Linked DNA regions of Homo sapiens: region 2 is linked to region 1. Evidence: fine-mapped expression QTL. A gene starts in region 1. The other region holds a variant in brackets. All regions are shown on one strand. Distances are between the middles of the regions.

What was found.
Region 2: its variant is fine-mapped to the expression of B3GALT9 in whole blood (INTERVAL, PIP 0.92).

What each region holds. Positions count from the first base shown.
Region 1 is chr9:120,792,112-120,795,023 of GRCh38, reverse strand. B3GALT9 (beta-1,3-galactosyltransferase 9) reads right to left here and starts at 1,557. Exons shown (of 3, transcript NM_001386823.1): 1 at 1,102-1,557. FBXW2 (F-box and WD repeat domain containing 2) reads left to right here and starts at 1,608. Exons shown (of 8, transcript NM_012164.4): 1 at 1,608-1,670; 2 at 1,767-1,875. RefSeq lists enhancers at 595-684, 1,115-1,214, 1,277-1,907.
Region 2 is chr9:120,935,008-120,937,919 of GRCh38, reverse strand. No RefSeq gene overlaps it. Among named protein-coding and RNA genes, the nearest start is that of TRAF1, 9.7 kb to the right of the region's middle. The variant G/A (reference allele first, on the strand shown) is at 1,518.

The DNA.
Region 1 (2,912 bases):
TGAAGTCAGGATGCTTGGAACCTTGGCCATGCTCTACCATCTACTGGATATGTGTCTCTCTTATTGTCTATATTATTGGACTGTGCTATCAAGCATGGTAGCCATTAGCCTCATGTGGCTATTAAATTAAAATTAAATAAAATTAAGAATTTAGTTCATTTACATCAGGTACTTTTCAAATGTTCAGTAGCCACAAGAGACTAGTGACTGCCTTATTGGACAGCACCAACAGAACAACTCCATCACTGGCAAAAAGCTTATTGGACAGTGTTGGTATAAGATGTATGTGAATGTGCGTGTATGCATGTATGGCTTAGGAACCCTTACAGAGAAACAAGGATAACTTGTGCGCTGGGCATTGTGGTTCACCCCTGTAATCCCAGCACTTTTTGGGAGGCCCAGGCAGGTGGATCACTTGAGCCTAGGAGTTCAAGACCAGCCTGGGTAACATAGCGAAACCCTGACTCTACAAAAATACACACACACACACACACACACACACACACACACACACACAACTAGCTGGGCATGGTGACACGCGCCTGTGGTCCCTTCTACTCAGGAGGCTGAGGTGGGAGGATCGCTTGAGCCTGGAGAAGTCGAGGCTGCAGTGAGCCAAGATCGTGTCACTGTACTCCAGCCTGGGCGACAGAGTGATACGTTGCCTCAAAAAAAAAAAAAGGATAACTTGTGCTCTGAAGTCGGTTTGGGTTGAAATCCTATGACAGCCATTTACTATGACCTTAGGCAAGATGCCTAAACCTCTTTTGATTTCAGTTTCCCCATCTCTAAAAAGGGGCCTAATAATAGTTACTAGCTTGTGGGGTTGTTGTGGGAACTGAGTGAGATGGTACACAAAAAATGTTGAGAAAGAGTGCGTGGGATTTTTTAGCTCAGTTTTAGTTCTTGACGCCAAAAGGTTTGCATGCTTCATTTCCTTCAATCCTCAGAGCCTTCGGATGGGGACCTCACTATAATTGCTATGCAGATGAAGCAAAGTCTGAGAGGTTAAGTAACCGGGCCACAGCCAGAGTGTAAACGTTGTGATTCATTCAAATCTACATCACTTGACTGTCTCTTTTCATTCAACAACCTCCTTACCTTGCTTTATTTTTCTCCTTTGCACGAGCCTTAGTTTATCTGTCTTCCTCCTCCTAATAGATGTAAGGCCCAGGCGGTCAGGGGCTTTTGCGTTTTTTGTTCACTAACCCTATCCCCTAGAACAGCGTTCGGGATAAAGAGGTGCCCAACAGGTTGTATGAATTTGGACACGTCTCTTAACTTCTCTAAGCCACAGCTCCCTCTCCTCCGTAAAATGAGGATAATAAGAAAAACTACTGCAGAGCTGGTGCAAGATCAGATTGGAGGAGGGACATAAGCGCGCTGTGCAAACCTGGATGTACGGTACGAAAGGAACCTCCGTTCTAGGTTGCACCCAGCCTAAGCACCGTGAGGGCCGCGCGGCACGCGTTCAGCTTCCCGGGACGCTCTTCTCCCCACCCCTACTCCCGGCCTCCAGCCTCCCACCACCCACCTCCGGGCGGGGACCGGAAGTGCAGCCGCTTCCGCCGGGAGCCGCGGAGCTGAGGGACGCGCGGAGATGACGCAGGCAGCACCGGAAGCCGCTCCCCTGTGAGGCTGCGGACCGGGAGCAGCGGCCGCAGGTCCGGGTCTGTATGCGAGGCGGGGCCGGTCGGGGAGGGGACTCTTAGGCGCCCGCGGCTCTGCTGACCCGCCGCGCCTTGGCTGTTTTTCTTTCCCTGCAGGCGCCATGGCTGCGGAGCGGACCCGGCCGCTGCAAGGCTCTGGCGGTCCGAGCGTGCCTAGTAGCTGTGAACCCGGCGCGAGGTCCCGGGCCCCGGGGCGCTCGCTCAGGTCAGTGCCGCGCGGAACACGATTCCGAGAGCAAGGGACCTGGGAGCAACGAATGGGTTGATGGGATCTGGATTTTAGAGACGGGAAAACAGGGTTTTGGAGTTACTGCCTCCTACTGCCTCCATTTCCTTAGCTGCGAAATGAGTTAACAGTGATGTCCCAGGGCTACCAAACGTTTGAAAGACGATGAAGTGTGATGAGGTGGTTTATGAAGTACAAAGCGCTATACTGCGCCATAATTGTGGGTATGCCATGAAAACAGGTGTGTATGTGGGGTGCTGCTTGAAGTAAAGCAAAGATAACAATATTAATGCTAAGTAATAATGGTAACTGACATTTACTGTAGGCTTACAGCGTGCCGAGTACTGTGCTAAACGCTTTACTTGCACTGTCTTGTTTAACCCTCATAAAAACCCTTGTAGGTAATGCTCTTGGCTGTATTTTACAAGTGAGGAAACAGGGCATGAGACAGGTGAAGTGATTTGCCCAAGGTCACCCAGCAACAAGTGGAGTTGCAGAACACATATTTTATAAACATTATTTGTATTCTTTCAAAGCTTTAAAAAAATTCACCTTAAAACTAAAGGCTATTTTTTGATAGTATATTATACTTAACATGGTTTTCAGTTTTAAAAGGTATACAATAAAAAGGGACCCCTCATTCCTATTCTGCAGCTCTCCAGTTCTCTCTGGAGGCAACCAGGGTTATCAGTTTCTTGAATATTCAGAATACATTTTATGCATATGTAAGTTTATAGGTGTGTATACATTTTCAGCGCCTCTGTGCTCTTTGTTTGATAAGAAAAGGGGGAAATGAAGCCTCCTTCCCTCTACCACTAACAATTATGTTGCTTTCACTCTTGACTAGGCCAGGTTCTGATAGAGGAGGAGGGGAAAACACATTTACACTGTTTTCCAGAAGGTCCTGTCTCTAATACCTCTGAGTATAGGTTTTGGGAGAATGGGTACTGGGCAAAATATTGAGCCTGCTACTTCCTGTGCCATTCTGGGAAGGCCACTCCACTTCTTGAGCCGTA
Region 2 (2,912 bases), 140 kb before region 1:
AAGTTATTTCTGAGAGGAGAAGTAATGTAAGCAAACACCCAGCAGTGGGACTCAAGGGAGGTGCAGACAGAGACCCTTAAGCAGTTTGCTTATATGAGACAAGTGGAAGATAAGGCCAAGCCAGACCAAAAACAAACAAGATAAAGGGTTTGGATGTTTTCCTGCAGGAACTGAGACATTTTGAAAGTTTCTGGACAGCGCTGCAGGATGGAGGATGGATTAGGGAGGGTAGTGACTAACTCTTGGTGAAATGTAGGGTCCCATTAAGAAGAAAAACAAAACAAAAACCTTTCAGGACCTGCTTTCTTTCCCAGAAAAAACCCTGCCCTTTGGAGCCTCTCATGCGTTTGGTTGATAAAGGCATTTGATCCTGTTTTTTACTGTTAAGGGGCCTTGGCACAGCTGCCAGTCCCAGGAGCCTATTCCCAGCTCTGAGTCCTGGTGGGGCTGCTTGACCCATTCCCCTGTGTCCCCTAAAGACTGTGTCCCCCAAAGATTGCTCTCTGGTAGTGTACAAGGAGAAAGGCTTGCCTTTCTGGGCAGCCAGGCCAAGGAACCCTGGCCTCTGATGAGTCCAGCCACAAAGGCTCCACCCTGGGCCCCACTGAACTCAGACCTGCAGCCAAATGGAAAAAATCCAGGAGGCTACGAAGCCAAGAAAAAGAAGATTTGGATTCAAATCCTAGCTCTTCCCCTTCCCTTTCTGACCTTGAGAGACCTCACTGAGCCTCTATGTCTTAATCTGTAAAATGGAAACAAAAGCAACTACCCTACAGGTTTATTTGCCAAGATGAAATGACAGAGATTCATAAGTATACCTTGCACATAGCAGCCATTCAATAAATATTCCTCGCACCTCTTCCCCCAAAATCTCTCTGTGTCTCCATTTCCTCACTTATTAAATGTGATGGAGACCCAAGAATAAAGTTGAATGAGGTGATTTTCCCAAACCTCTGTCATCTGCCCCACACAGAGGCCCTTGGGAGAGCAGAGGGCCTTCATCTGAGCTCTTGAAGCTATTTATTCTTTTATTTTCAAAAACGTAAAAAAAAATCACAAAAGATCCCTTGCTAGTAATAACACTGGCACACACTTGCAATGGGCCAGTATCCTCTAACCTCTCCTCACTACCACCATCTGACTTAGGTTCCCATCTGTAAAGCAGCCTGGGGCAGGTCCCATCTGCAACTGCCCACAAGGTTGGGAGGACAGTGCCCGGCAGAGGGCGCTCCGAGTGTAACCTCCTAGCCAAGGCCCTGGGGGAAGGCAACAGGCCAAGGAAAATTCTGGTGGAAAAAATGAAGAAAGGATTCCAGGTTTATGAGTCTCAGACTTTGAAAAACAAAACTGCTGAGTTGTCTCCTGAGTTAGGAAAAAGAACACCACAGCCGCCTCGAGATTTCCAGGAAACTATTTCTGAAGGCTTTGGGCAAGGCTGGCAGGGGGCTGGCAGGGGAAACTTGGGCTGCCCCAGCTTAGGGTCCAATGCCCTGGCGGGTGGGAGATGGAGGTGGGTG[G/A]TGTGCATGTGGGAACGTCAGTGTGCATGTGTTCTTCAGCATGGTGGGGCTATGTGGGTTTACATGTGCCCTGTCTGTACACGTTTGTATGAGCCTGTGGGTACAATCCCACCAGTACGTATTGAGCACCTTCTGTGCTCTGCTGGGCATAGTGCCAGGTGATGGGATGCACCAGCAAATGAAACACAGTCTCTAAATTCATAAAGCTTAGTTTAGAGAAGGATGCAAAGTAACTGGCAATTTTAATTCAGAGTGCAGGCATCTGGGTGGTGGTTTGTGCAGCGGTTCAGAACACTGGCTTTGTGGTCAGGCAGCCTAGATTTTGACATGATCTTAGAGATCTTTCTGACATTCAGTCTCCTTAGGTGGAAAGTGCAAATATTAAAACCACATCCCGGGAGATACTATGTGTGTGTCAATGTCCAATGAAGGTCTCTATTATGTGTGTGCAGGGTCCACATCTGGATGAACAATGTGAACAGCCCGGGTGAGTTACATGTGGGCACGTTCACACATCTGCTTTTGTTGTGTTTATGGAGTGCCAGGCTCTACCAGAGGTCACAAATAGTGGCCCACAGACACAGTTCATAGGGATGCTCATTTGGTTTGGGTTTATTTTTTGGCTTATAGGGTGTTCTAAAAATCAAGTCGTTTCACATAAAAATCCAGATTTCCAACTTCTTTTGAAATCTTGGGTAAGCCAGCCATCCTGCGAGCATGTGCGTGTGTATGCCTGCCTGCCACAGTCTCTGCTTCCTGATAGATACGTCCTTCCCAGGGGCACCCTCCCCCTTGGCCAGTGTCCAGGGCTGTCCTTGGAGGGGTTCCAAGACTGCTCAGGAGAGCTGGTGTGTAGACATGTTCCCTGTGAAAGGAGAAGCAGGACTGAGCAGGAGCTGGTGCCAGGGCCCCAGGGCTCCCCAAGCAGTTCCAGTTTCAGCAATCACAGGGGCCAGAGAGAGCCATGGGCCCTACCCACAGCTCTCTGGCTGTGCAGCTGGGCACTGGTTACAGAAGATAGTAACCAAGGATGGCAGTAGACAGAATGGCTTTTCTTATCTATTTGATTTTGCATTTTAAAATGTTACAAGTGCACATCTGAAATGATTAAGACAATGATCTCCAGAAAGTGTTGCTAGATATATATGCTAGAATTATTTTTAAAATTTACAAAAAGATTGTAGGCTCATGCCTATAATCCCAGCACTTTGGGAGGCCAAAGCAGGAGGATCACTAAAGCCCAGGAGTTTGAGACCAGCCTGGGTAACATAGTGAGACCCTGTTTCTAAAAAAAAAAAAAAATTTGTTTTTAATTAGCCAGGCGTGGTGGTGCATGCCTGTAGTCCCAGTTGCTTGGGAGGGTGTGGTGGGAGGATCACTTGAGCCCAGGAGGTG